Homo sapiens: one gene and its partners. The protein of the gene in region 1 purifies or fractionates together with the protein of each later gene. This does not show direct contact. Each region holds a gene or a part of one and is shown in the gene's direction. Other genes may lie near its edges.

What was found.
Region 2: the proteins of NUFIP1 (region 1) and RAB6B purify together in Homo sapiens (affinity purification with mass spectrometry; 3 studies listed by BioGRID and IntAct, with this or other methods). This does not show direct contact.
Region 3: the proteins of NUFIP1 (region 1) and GPM6A purify together in Homo sapiens (affinity purification with mass spectrometry; 3 studies listed by BioGRID and IntAct, with this or other methods). This does not show direct contact.
Region 4: the proteins of NUFIP1 (region 1) and NTM purify together in Homo sapiens (affinity purification with mass spectrometry; 3 studies listed by BioGRID and IntAct, with this or other methods). This does not show direct contact.

The regions. Positions count from the first base shown.
Region 1 is NC_000013.11:44,938,727-44,941,625, reverse strand, and holds the end of NUFIP1 (FMR1-interacting protein NUFIP1), read left to right. Parts: intron 1-303; coding exon 304-420; 3' UTR 421-2,377; downstream 2,378-2,899. UniProt on the Homo sapiens protein: Binds RNA.
Region 2 is NC_000003.12:133,836,846-133,840,382, reverse strand, and holds part of RAB6B (ras-related protein Rab-6B), read left to right. Parts: intron 1-765; coding exon 766-877; intron 878-2,123; coding exon 2,124-2,217; intron 2,218-3,537. UniProt on the Homo sapiens protein: The small GTPases Rab are key regulators of intracellular membrane trafficking, from the formation of transport vesicles to their fusion with membranes. Rabs cycle between active GTP-bound and inactive GDP-bound states.
Region 3 is NC_000004.12:175,637,728-175,641,264, reverse strand, and holds part of GPM6A (neuronal membrane glycoprotein M6-a), read left to right. Parts: intron 1-435; coding exon 436-512; intron 513-1,070; coding exon 1,071-1,136; intron 1,137-3,537. UniProt on the Homo sapiens protein: Involved in neuronal differentiation, including differentiation and migration of neuronal stem cells. Plays a role in neuronal plasticity and is involved in neurite and filopodia outgrowth, filopodia motility and probably synapse formation.
Region 4 is NC_000011.10:132,147,115-132,150,651, forward strand, and holds part of NTM (neurotrimin isoform 9 precursor), read left to right. Parts: intron 1-3,537.

The DNA.
Region 1 (2,899 bases):
AGGAGAATGGCGTGAACCCGGGAGGCGGAGCTTGCAGTGAGCTGAGATCCCGCCACTGCACTCCAGCCTGGGCAACAGAGCGAGACTCCGTCTCAAAATAAATAAATAAATAAAAAGCTAGATAGTCTTGATATAAATTAAAAGGACATGTTCTTGCATCGTTTTTTAGCAAAATAGTGAATATAATACATATTTCTTATTGTTCTGTCTTCTTTATATGGTGAGGGTACATGCAATATTTTAGATTGTATTTCCCAGATATAATTTATTTACTACCTCATCTTTTTTTAAATTGTGTTTTAGCTTCTAGCTCCGGACATTCGACATGAAAGAAATGTGATTTTGCAGTGTGTTCGGTACATCATCAAAAAAGACTTTTTTGGACTGGATACTAATTCTGCGAAAAGTAAAGATGTATAGGCATCTGGTGTTTCAGCATACATAACTGAAGCATGTGAAACAGTATCATCCTCGTTAGTAGAGGAAAACCAAAACCCTTTTTTCCGTCAAAATTGGATTTGTAATTAAATTGTAAGCCTCGTAGGATGTATGTTGGAATTTTAAGTCTTTCCTTTGGTTCTATGCAAATAAAAAAATAACTGATTTTTTAAGACTGTGTCTGTATTGTTGGGATTGAATCTAGTATTTGCTGGGAGAATTTTTTCTTTGTATTTATTTTAATGTATTGTTCTCATGTAAGAATGACTGATGTTGTGTTAGTTAAGAATTGAAGATAGGTTTAGCAGTAAAGAAGAAAGCTTTTAAAAGGATTGATTCAGCTAAGCAAAGTTGGGCAGAGAAATACAGCCATTTTGTTTTTAATGCAGAAAAGGAAGATGTTCTGTAGCAAGGGGGAATATTTTAAAAATAAACCAGATCAAATTAATACAATCAGAAGGTTTCGAAATGTAAATATTCCTTATTTAAGACATGTTTAAATTCACCTACTAGCACGACTTACATAGCTCAAATATTGAATGTTTAAAATATTAATACAGATGGGGCCTCTTTATGTTTAGATAAAATTGAAGTACTTAATTGAAGCTTTTTAAAAATTGTAAAGTAAATGAAAGCTATTGAGATCTTTTTGTCTCCTATAATACCAGGGAATTTGAGCTTGTGTTCTAGTCATTGTACTAGCTGTAGCTATTGGTCTGTCCTTTTGACATACAGCTAAAAGGGACTAAATTTGTAAAAAATTAGTTTGTTATAGTTGAAGATTAACTTTTCCTAACATTGTGATTATTGAAGTTCATGAATCTTGCTGTCAAGGAAGAAAGGTAAGAAAGCTGATAGCTCCTCCATGTTGGTAAAATCCTCTCCAGAATCTTGGAACACCTGGCATGTGACCCTAGTGACGTCACAGACCTGAGATGAAGATTCATGTTTAGCCAGTGTTTTCCAGCCTTGTACCCACCATACAGATCTGTTTATTCTGTTTCACCCTACTCCTCCAGTGAGCCCCATATTTTGGGAAATTATCTGCCTTATACATTAACTAATTCAATTCATGTAACACTGTTGAGTGCTTACTCTTTGTACCTCTATTGTGCCTATATTAAAGGTATACAAATAAATAAGGCCATGTCTGACTTCAAGGAACTCAGTTTAATTTTGATATATTCAAAGATGTGATTCCCAACCAACTCAGGATGAAGTAACTAGTGTTACAACTGAGTTGATATTCTAAAATATAACACAGTTTGTACTTTTATTACTAGTTAGCATACACATTTTATAGGCTTATGGGTTAATAAATGAATTCATGGACTCCTGGACTACTTTCATTGATGACCATATCTCCAGGGATGTTGTTGATCCCCACACTGCCTTAAGGTATATTATAGAAACAGTTTTATTTTCCATTTTTCTTGTTTCCTGATAATAAATGTATTTAGGACTGAAAATACTCCTGAGTACTCCCTTGGCTGTATGTCTGACAGTCTTTAGCTATGGTGACTATTGTTTATTTTTAATGGGTATTTCAGATTCCAAGTGTATTTAAAATTTCTAAGGAGATATAATATAGCCTGTATGGTTTCTACTTTATGGAATTATATGGTCAATATTTGTAAATATTCTATGAGTTTTGGGTGGGTAGAGGGGTGCTTTGCCTGTTTTGGGTACAGGTTTTTTTGGATTTAGCTTGTTAATTGTTCAAACTTTCTGCCTTCTACATTCCTATCTTATTGTTCGTTTAATCAGTTTCTGAAATGTAAGCATTACATGACTATTGGTGAGTTGTGCCTTTTATAACTGAAATACTTTACTTTTTCTCATATCCTCTATAATTGACTTCTATTTTCCTTAATCAAACCAGCTCTGGGAAATTTAATACATTTATATTAATTGAGATTATTAAAACATTTGGACTATTCCTGGCTGTCTTACTTTGTATTTTCTATATATCATGCTCTCTTGTTTTTATTTTGTCATCTTACTGGCTTGTTATTTTTTTCTCCTTGTTATTCCTCCAGTGGTTTGGAAGTAATTAAACCTATTGCTATTTCTTTAGTGATTACCTTTTTTCTTTAAGTTTAGAGTTAATTAGTAGCCACATCTTCCATCCATCTCCCAATTAAGTCAGTAACCTTAGCATTGTTTCACTTCCCCACCTCAGCCTCTTTTTGTGATGTAATCAGATACGATTTTAGTTTTAGATTAATCCCTGGGATCTTGGTGCGTATGTGTAAATAGTTATTAGGCCACTGTGAGTTTTACTGTTTTCTTCTGATTGCTTTCTCTTGCATCCCAGGATTAGTTTTCTGGTGTGCTGCTGCATATCTTCAAGTAATTAAATGTTGAATCTTCAATTTAAAGTTTTTTAAATTGAGTTATGGTTTTAGACTCAAAATCATTTTCCTTTGGAATTTTGAAGCTATAACAATCATTTGCTGTT
Region 2 (3,537 bases), on another chromosome or scaffold:
CTGAGGCTTCTGAGGACAGCTACCTCCCCTCCCCTTGGGTGTGCAGGCTGCCGAGTGGTGGGTATTGCCTTATAGCTGCTCTGCCCTGCAAGGCCTATCATGGCAGCTGAGGGGGGTCAGGCTGCCCAGAAGTGGCCTTGTCTCTCCTGGATTTTTGAGTGCACCTGGCTCCCCTGACTAGTCCCGGGGCCACCTTTCCCCTCCTCTCATCTGCAGAGCCTGAGGGTTCTCTTCAGAAACCCCTCTGGCCTTCCCCAAACTCTCCTGAGCTCCCATGGTGGGGACACCACTCAGTAGGGCCCTTCCTTCCCTAGAGGCTGCTGTGTCCTCCTCTGCCCACCCTCACTGTTCCCAAACTTGCCAAGTCGCGCGCGCATGTGTGTGTGTGTGTGTGTATGCACACACACGTGTGACCCAGTTCTCACTCTCCACTCTGAATCCCCAGAGTCAGGTCTCTCAGGTGGGCCCCTAAAGCCACTATTCCATGTGGCAAATCATGACACTGTGATCTTCCAGATGGGGTGATTCCTCTCCCACAAAGGGTGGCTGAACAGTGCAAGTGGCTCCCCAGGGCCGCAGGGCAGGGCCCGGTTCCCTCTGAAAGGCCCTACCCAGCTGATCTGTGTTGACTGAGCTCACACCCCTCCCTGGGTATCTGAGGGCACATGCTCACCCTCCCTCCTGCTCCTGGCTCACACCTCCCCTTCCCATCTCCCACTGGTGGCTGGCCCTGGCTTTCAGTTTATCCTCACTTTCTGCCTCCAGATCTCAACTCCTTCCAACAGACCTCTAAGTGGATCGACGACGTCAGGACAGAGAGGGGCAGTGATGTTATCATCATGCTGGTGGGCAACAAGACGGACCTGGCTGATAAGAGGTAGGTGCAAGGGCACACAGGTGCAGGGTGCCACCCTCCACTCCTCTGTAACTGCTCCTGGACAGGGAGCTCTGGGATGCATGGGTGGTGTGTCTGTGCTTCTGACCATGCATCCGGAAAAGGTCCCTTGAGACACTAGGAGCTTTGAGGACACCTGGTAGACTCTCATCCATGGGTATCTCATCTGTGAAGCCCTGTCTTCCACCACCAGGCAGGGGCGGGGCACTTCTCCGTTTGCTGTCTACACAGAGCACTGTGCACCTGGCTTGACCCAGCAGTGCATGGTCTAAGGCCCTGCCATGGCCACAGCCCTGCCCCAGACACAGCAGTCCTCTAGGCCCCAGCGTGTGCACTGTGAACTGTCTGTGCCTGTGAAGTGTCTGCACCAATGTGCGTGGGGCTGTGAATGCCCTGGGCCCTAGGTGTGAGCATGCAGAGCATTCAGACCACAAACCTATGGCCGTAGCCTGCTTAGCCTGGTTTGTGGCTGCGTCTGGCATGAAGCTTTCTCTGAAGAGGCTCCTCCATGCTGCCCTCCATGCACAGGGAGAACTGAGGTGCCATGTGTGTACATTGTCCACTCATTTTACATGACCCTGACTTGGGCAGATAAAGTGACAGGCCATGGACTCCAGCAAGCAGTGTGGGCTTCCTGCAGCGTCCCTTGACCACCTGAGGAATCATCTGAATTAGAGCCTGCTTTACTAGAGTTCTGTCCTTAAAGTAAGGAAAACTGGGCTCAAATCCCAGTACAAAGGGTACCCAGGCCCTTCATACCCTCACCCACTTCTGCCTGCCCCATCATGGAGCCCTCTCTGCTAAGTAGCTTTGTGGCCCTGGGGGAGACACTTTTAGCATTAGTGTTCTCACAGGGAAAATGCGACTGATAATACCACCCAGAGTGGCACTGCCTGGCTTGAATCTCTTCATAAGCACAGGCTCTGCAGTAGTGACTACTGGGAAAGGCAGGTATGGGGCAGCCCTACCCCAGGGCCTGCTTTGAAGCTGAGAAGACACAAAGGAAGGAGTGGGGGAAGCGGATAGTGTCCTACTGTTCCCTGGTGCCTGCTTTGTGCTAGCGAGACTGTGGTTGGTGCCCGGGAGGGACCCTTGGGATCAGAGCCTGTCTTCAGGACTGACCAAGGGCCCAGTGGGCTCCCTCTGCCCTGCTGGGTGGGTCCCTCCTCATATCTGCCAGGGTCTGCTTCTCTGCTGAGCTGATTTCCCCCCTTCCCCTCATCTCTAGGCAGATAACCATCGAGGAGGGGGAGCAGCGCGCCAAAGAACTGAGCGTCATGTTCATTGAGACCAGTGCGAAGACTGGCTACAACGTGAAGCAGGTGAGGACACACCTGGCACGGGGCCCGGCACGGGGCCCGGCACGGTGTAGCCCTGTGGTCAGCTGCAGGCTCAGAGCTGCCTTGCCCTGAAGGGCTGGTGATGGGATTGGGGCAGCCAACCAGAACACCCATAGATGCGCCCAGGGAGGGGAGAGCTAATTTCCGGAGCTGGTAAAGCCCAAAAGAGGGAGGGACCACTCCGGGCATGGCATCTGGAGAACATAAGTCACCAGCCACCGTAGTAGTTGCCAGTCACGGCCCACGTAGCAGGCCCTAAGAGTGTCCAGCCACCAGCTTCCAGGAGGCTGAGGGAAGCAGTGGTTCCCTAGCCCCTCACCCCACTTTGGATGACAGGTGCAGGAAAATTCAATCTGATCAGCATTTGGGGTTCATGCCTTGCGCTTAGCAAGTGCTCAGGGCTGTGGAGGGCAACTCAGGCCTGGGGGAAAGAGCCTACCATGATGTGGTTGGAACTCACAGGAGGGCGAGGCAGTGGAGTTAGGGCTGAGCCTTGCAGCATGAGGGCCCCTGAGTAGTCCATGGGTGGAATTTAGCAGGTCAGCAGACAGGGCTGGAAAACATTGCACCTTTATCTTCACTAACCACTGACCCGTCCGTAGCACTGAAGGACGTCTGATTTGTCCTTCAATGATGAATGTAGGCAATGACACTCAGTCACATTAGCAGTGCCTATGGCTTTACCACCAATAGAAATCACAGATGCCTTCCCATCACCTCATAGTGTTGCAGGTATCTTGAACTTCACATCTATCAGTGTTTCAGCATCACACTACTTATTAGATCTCTTGCTAGTTCTCGCTGTTCAATGTGTTTCATAAGGAAGCACAAATGTCGATGAAGTTTTATTTCAGTACTCAGTAGTCCCCTTTATCATCCTATGTAATTGATTTCACATACTTCAAAGGAGTCCATAGGATTAACCAGATTGCCAGAGGGGTCCTTGGCTCACGGAAGGGTTAAGAACTCCTGCCGTTGGGGATGAGAAGGACTTGGAGAGGTGGTGAGGAGGGAGGGCATGCCAAGCAGGGGAGCAGCAAAGGTGTGGCTGCAGGGTGCCCGAGGTATGGGGAGGGGACTCTGGGTGAGGAGTGTGGTTGGCCTGGCGGTCGCTTCTGCCCTGCCACCCCAGCATTGCTGGGAACCCTTGGCAAGCTGTGTATACAGCACTGGCCTTCTGGATGCAGTGATGGTTTGCCCTGTGTGGACAGTGCTGGTGGCAGTGGGGAAGGTGGGCTGGCAGAACGACAAGAAGAGACAAGAAGGGTGGAAGGGACACTATGTGACACTGGGGGCCCCAAA
Region 3 (3,537 bases), on another chromosome or scaffold:
AAAAAAAAGTACTCCTTTGGGCAGTATGCTTTTAGAGATTAACAGAAGCACTGCACCAGCTGAACAAATTTAGATCCTGACTTCAGCACAGTCTGGGGCATAGTTAACAAAATAATTGTGATGCCTATACTATCACATTAATGGGCCAAACCAATAAACTGGCTATAATTGAGTCTGGAAATTCTGGTGGTGAGATTCAATTGAATTCAGATTGAAATTATTTAAATTGCTTGAGGGCTAAATAGTCTTGCATATTATATTCATAATTCTATGCATAGTTATTATCCACAATGAAAGCTAGATTATTTTTCCACTGTAACATAACATAAGATAAAATGGAACTTGCTTAGATTTGATTAGCAAAAACTCATTTTTTTCTCTCTTGGCTCTTCAAAACATTTATACTGCTAAACTGTCATTTCCCACACATTGTAGGAATTGTGACAATTGGAGAGGAAAAGAAAATTTGTACTGTCTCTGAGAATTTCTTGAGGATGTGCGAATCTACTGAGGTGAGTGTTTTTACAGCCTTTAATTTTGTCAGAATTTTAGCATTCATTTTTTATTATTTGGATAATGTATTAAAACTAAATCTATATTGACTTTTCCCTTTATTCTATCAGAGGCAATTTTACCTGAAGTAGTGTTATTCAGGAGGAGTAGAGGATAAATAGGAATTAGATGCTCTGCATATTTCAATAAAAATTATAATAACTATTTCAAATTTTCTGGAAACTCATTTTAATGAAGGCTGAAAACATGATGAAGTTGTTTTTAAAGAGAGCATAGCCCTCCTTATATTGTTATAATGTTACTGATGAAAACCATCATTATTAATCATTGTCTCATCTTTATAATGAAATTATGTTATAATGATGAAGTTGAAAGGATTTAAATGATTTGCAGGGGAAAATATATTGTAATAATCTGTTTTAATCAGGTGGGTGATTTATCACAGGCTCGCTTTTATTTAAGATGTACAAAGTCTTGTTTATAAGACAGTAGCAATCTTGACTTCTCTTCTACCTATAACTCTGACACCTTTTGATTCTCTGTGGTTTCCATTGCAGCTGAACATGACCTTCCACTTGTTTATTGTGGCACTTGCTGGAGCTGGGGCAGCAGTCATTGCTATGGTAAGACCTCAAAGCGCTGGTGCTTGGTTTTCAATGTGAATTCCAAAGCTATTTGCTTGTAGAGATGATAAACTATCTCTAAAGTTTGAAGTTCATGTAAAACACATTTATGTCATCAGATTAAAAAAAGTAGGGAAAACAATGGGTAAGTAAGTCAACAACAAGACTAAACCCCAAGAAATATTATTATTACCATATTGAGAACATTAACAAAAATAGTAATTCATTAGGATTTTAGATATTAGATTACTATAAATATAAAAATTATTTCTGTAGCATATATGTACATACCAATGTGACATTGTGAGTAATCTAATCAATTCCTTGATTTACTTTTTTTTCCTTAGCTAAGAACATTAAAAAGCCATATAGAGTCATTTATGAAAAACAAATTAGGTTATTAAAAAAAACAAATGTCAGTAGTTTCAAGTCATGTCTTCTATATCTAATTTGCTTCAGAAATATTAAGAGCCAGTCTTTAGATCTTCTTTTAAGACATCAAGCTTTTACACAATGAGGAGGATCTACCACGTGCCAGAGCCAGTCTCCTCCTTTCTAACTTGGCATGAGTTCCAGTATGCCCACTGGAATGCCAAATATCAACCCTGAGCAAGTGCTCTGAGTGTCAGTAATAGCTTTTGCAGCCAATATCTTCAGTCTTTGTTTGTATCCTTGAGGATGAGTAGTCTAGAGCCCTAGAAGGACTCCCAGTAACCTCACGACTGTGACAGCCGAGTCAATATGTAAAGATGGTGAATGAATTGGAATTTATTTAATTATTTTCCTCATGGTGCCAATATCTATCTAATGTATTGGTGAAAGGAACACTTTCATAAAAAAATGTTTTTCTCTTGTCAGAGACTAAAAATAAGAATGATGAGAAAATACTAATGTGCTAATTAGCCATGTCAGAGTGGTTATTTTACTGATTTCATAAATATTTTGTATTTAATTTGTTTTATTAAAAATGACTTACATATATATTCAATAAAACTATGTCAGTACTAACATGAATTTTTGATGTTTTGTTACTTTAGCGTTGCTCAACATTTTTGATACAGTGACCTCTATATAGAATAAACCTCTATATAGAAATTTTGTTTCAGAACGTGAGACGCTTGATAAGGATCATGTTGGTTGATTAATTGGGGGGATCAAAATAGAACAAAAGCAAAGGCCTTATATTCTCAACCTAAAATTAATGCTAAACTATGCCCTGGGGAAGAATCAGCAAGTTCTGGCCAATGATATACCAAACATTATTGTCCTTAGGAGAAAACATGCTGGTTGTGATATCAGAGGAAACATATGTACCCTTGTGTTCATACACCCATTTCTATGCTGTCAAAAACTTTAATGACACGGGTATGTACAAGCAATATATACCCAGGTACAAGAAGTCTGTGAAGGTATCTTTTAAAAAGTGGACTATAATAAATATTTGTTTGCATTTGCTACATATATGTGCATATAAAATTCTGTCTAAAAATACAGGTATACACTAGTGAAAAACACCTATTTAGACAAATGTTATTTAAATGTCCCTGAAAATGCTTACTCTCAAAACAAATCAACAGATTTTGAGATGATAGAAATTTATATATTATGTATTTCTTAAGCAATCTATGCTTTGCATATACTTAAAGCTATACGTACATTTTATTTAAAACAGAAAGCTTAGAAGATTATTTTTTCAAGTACTAAGCATTATTTGGGGGTTATTTTCTCTGTCTAGAGTCATCACAAAACCCCATACTAGCTTAAATGATTGACCTAAGTATTTCCAATTTATTAGCTCTGATAATGATGTAGGTCTTGGGAGACAGGTAAAATATAACTACTGCTACTGTTCCTGGTACTAATGCTGCTAGTACCAGGAATAATAAAGCAGGGACTTTATTATTAATAATATTTCTTAAAAACTTAATATTAAAAATTGAGAATAGTAATTGTAATGTTATTAATAATATTTCTTAAGAACTTATTCTGTTCTACTCTACTCCATTATTTGTAGAGAAGTTAGGAAGTCCTACATGCTGACAAAGTAAATCGACTTAGCATTGGACCAGATTTCAGTAATCACTGTTCACCTAGCGAGGGACAGTAATAAGCCCTGCAGCTTGGGTTCCCCTTAAGGCCAGAGGAAATGCTTGTAAGAACCATGAGGAAGCACCTGTTTCTGAATTGGAGTGACCTTGAGTTTCAGTATTTCATTCATGCATATATGTATATATATATATATAATATATAAATATTATATATAAATAGATTATATATTTTATATTATATATTATATATTTTTATATATAATATATAAATAGATTATATATTTTTATATTATATATTATATATAGATTATATATTTTTATATTATATATTATATTTTTATATAATATATAAT
Region 4 (3,537 bases), on another chromosome or scaffold:
TCCCAACTCTCCTGGCCTTCTTCTCCTCCCCTGACTCCTAGTTCATGAGGCCTTGTATGTTTGTGTGTGTGTGTGTGTGTGTGTGTGTGTGTGTGTGTGTGAGAGAGAGAGAGAGAGAGAGAGAGAATATGTGTGTTGGTTATGCTCTCTTAGACCCTGGGAATGGAGCTCACCTCTTCCCACAAGGCAGAACCAGTCCTGGGGCATTCAGACAACACTTAACCCGGTTGAAGGATTCCTAGTTAGTGAGCAAGAGCTGGCATCACACTTGGCCACTTTCTGGCTGTGAGACCTTAATCAAGTTATTACCGTGTCTCAGGGTTCTCTTTCTGTAAAGGGGGTCAACGTGAGGATTGAACTGTAAACGTACTGACATAGAAAACACGTAGAAGAGGGCGTGGCACATACAAGTGCTATTTCAGTGTTAGCTATGGAGCTTTCTTTTCTCTTTTTTAGGACTTTTGTAATTTTTAAAATTTTTGAGCATCTTTTACAGTGGGTCAAATATCTTATTTTGTGATGTCAGCAGTATAGCCCCTGAGCAGCGGCATGCCAGATCCAGTGCTGGAGCCCTTTCCCAGGCTGATCCCGAGGCCCTTTCAACCAGGGACGTGTAGCTCCAGGGTGACAAACTCCTCTCCTAGGGGCTCCTTCCACCAGTCCCCTTGTCGGTGTGTTCAAGAAAAGGGTAAAGAACTATGGGATGATTGGTTAGAGACAGAATAGGAAGGAAGGCAGCTTGAGAAGGAAGAACTGAAGTGAGCCGGAAGAAGGAAGGGGAGGCCTGCTGTTTGACAGTAGGGGAAGGCGGAACTTGGGTCGTGATCAGCACTGTTGAGTGAGGCAGGGTGAGCAGGACTGAGAGGAGGACACATGAGAACAAGGTGATGCTGGACCTGGCTGTGGGCAGAACGTATGCCAGGGGACATGGGAATCCTTGATGCTGTGGCCCAAGTTTGGTCATGCCAAGTTTTTATTATATTTTGCTTACTCTTTCTTCCCCAAAGGAAATTACAATGGCTGTTTAAAAAATGATTCTATAAATGAATACTTTTTGAACTGATGCATGCAAACAGCAATTTTAAAGAAAATAGAATTGCATAGAAGGTATCAGAGTGTATTACAAAGAGTGGAGTAGGTATTGCCATGTGAGATTTTTGTTTCAGTTTGTGTACATTTTTTAATGTAAAATACATTTTTTATTATGGATAGGGAGGCCAAAAATGCTTGAGAATCTCCACTCTGTGGGCAGGGCTGGTGAATGCCCTGGTGCCACCATCTGCATACTCTACCAGGTGGTGGTTTGGAAGCTATTGCTCAGCCCCCCTCCTGTCCTGCCCCAACCCCTGCACACTTAGTGTTGAGAAAAGAATGCCTAGCATTGACAATGAGAGACTGGGAACTAGGAACTATTAGAGATATTTGCTTTAGGAAGCAGGGCCTCATGGAACTGGAAAGTGGAAGGAATTGTGAAAAGTGCTAATGTCTCCTTGAAAACTGGATCATATTTTTGTCATTTTCTTTCTTCAGCCACCCCCACTCACACACACCCCCACACCCCTGCCCTGAACACCTCGCAGAATGCCTGATACAAAGTGAACATTTAATAAATGCTTATTGAAGCAAATGGCTAGAATTAGAGCCAGGTGATCTTATATGGGCTCCAAGAGAGACGGCTGGGTGTTTTTGGGGGTGAGATGATGGGAGGGGGTGAGAGGATGGAGTCTACATCAATCTTCACTCACATCCAAGCTAATGGAAAATGTCTAATCCCTTGCTAGGTGTTTACATCTGTGACTTAGCTAGGTGCCCTCTCGCATGACACACCACCTCAAGTATTGGAATCTCATCTTGGGCTAATTTTCGAATGCTGATGGGTGTATTGATCTGGAAACAAGCTGGGTTAAAAAAGGCATTGGTCTTTTACACAGACTCAGCCCAAGCTAATCCGCTGTCGATATGCCTGGACTGAGTATTATCGACACTTTAATGAATAGAGGACCATAGTTTTTTCAGAGCCAAACTGACCCCCTCTTCAAAGCGATCAGACAAACTAAATAGAGCCAGATTCTTGTGTTTCTGTATTGGAAAGAGGATGCACCACCATCCTGGATTACAAAAAAAAAAAAAAAGGGAAAGAAATATATTTATCTTGGGATCGTTTATTATACCAAACATAAACCCTAATTCCCCTAGCAGAAGCTGACTCTCTGGATTTGAAGTTGCTATTCAGCCCTGAGCTTCTGGAATAAAAGTTGGGCATATTAGGTTTTCAAAATGGTATTATGATCCTTTAAAAAAAGAAATAAAAACAGCAACAACAAAAAGGAACTAAATTGATATTCTGCCCATGAGTATGTGTATTTATGTATATGTAGTCACCTTCATATCTAAATAAATCCACACAGAAGGAAGGTAGTGGCATCTCACAGCATTGCACAAGCTGCTTCAGGTCTGGGGTATGTCTTTCCCCTTACTGTCAAATATCCCATCTACCCCCTAGTTCTCTGTACTGGATTTTCTTCCCCTGTGGTTCTGATCCAATATGGTTATTTCTTGCAGACAGCCGTGAGGCCAAGGCGACCACATGGAGCAAGTCTCTGGGGCAAGCTAGGAGCAAAGGGCATCCTGGGGGAGGAGGGTGACCCTGGAGCCAGTGTGGGAGGGAGATGGAGGGGGAAGGCGGCAGAAAGGAGGAGACAAGAGAACTGAGCCAAGTAGCTACTTGCCAGGGTGGCTATTTTAAATTAAATTTAAATTAGCTACAACCAAACAACATTTAAAATTTACTTCTTCAGTCACACTAGCCACACTGCAGTGCTTCCATAGTCATGCAAGACTACTGTTCCCTTGTGTTCATTTTGCATTACTATAAAGGAATGCCTGAGGCTGGTAATTCACACACATAAAAAAGAGGTTTATTTGGCTCATGGTTCTGCAGCCTGTACAAGCACAGCACCAACATTTGCATCTGGAGAGGGCCTCAGAATGCTTCTATTCGTGGCATGGCGTGAAGGGGACCCAGTATATGCAGAATTGCATGGTGAGAGAAAAAGCCAGAGACAGCAGGGACGGTGCCAGGCTCTTTTTTACCACCAGCTTTCGAGAAAGCTAATAGAGCAAGAACTCACTTGCCCCACCCCCTGCATTTATCTATTTATGCTCCATCCCCATGGCCAGACATCTCCCATTAGGCCCCCACCTCCAATTTTGGAATCAACTTTCCACATAAGATCTACGGGAACAAATACCCAAACTACTGCACTCCTGTGTTGGACAGTGCAGAGAGAGAACATTTGTGTGAACTTCCATTGTAAAAAGCTTTATTGGATAGTGCTATAAGGGGTTACCATTATGGATCAGCAGGTGTTAAAGCTAGAATGGCTTTCCATGGCTTGAAGGGCTAGGTATATTGTGGAAAGGAGAGTGGAATTTTGGAAAGAGAATGGAAATTTTAAATAGATGGTGCTCTTTTAAAAACAAGAGAGAATTGTTGAAAAAGATGGAGTAATGGATTTCCTAGGTTAGCTTCAATTG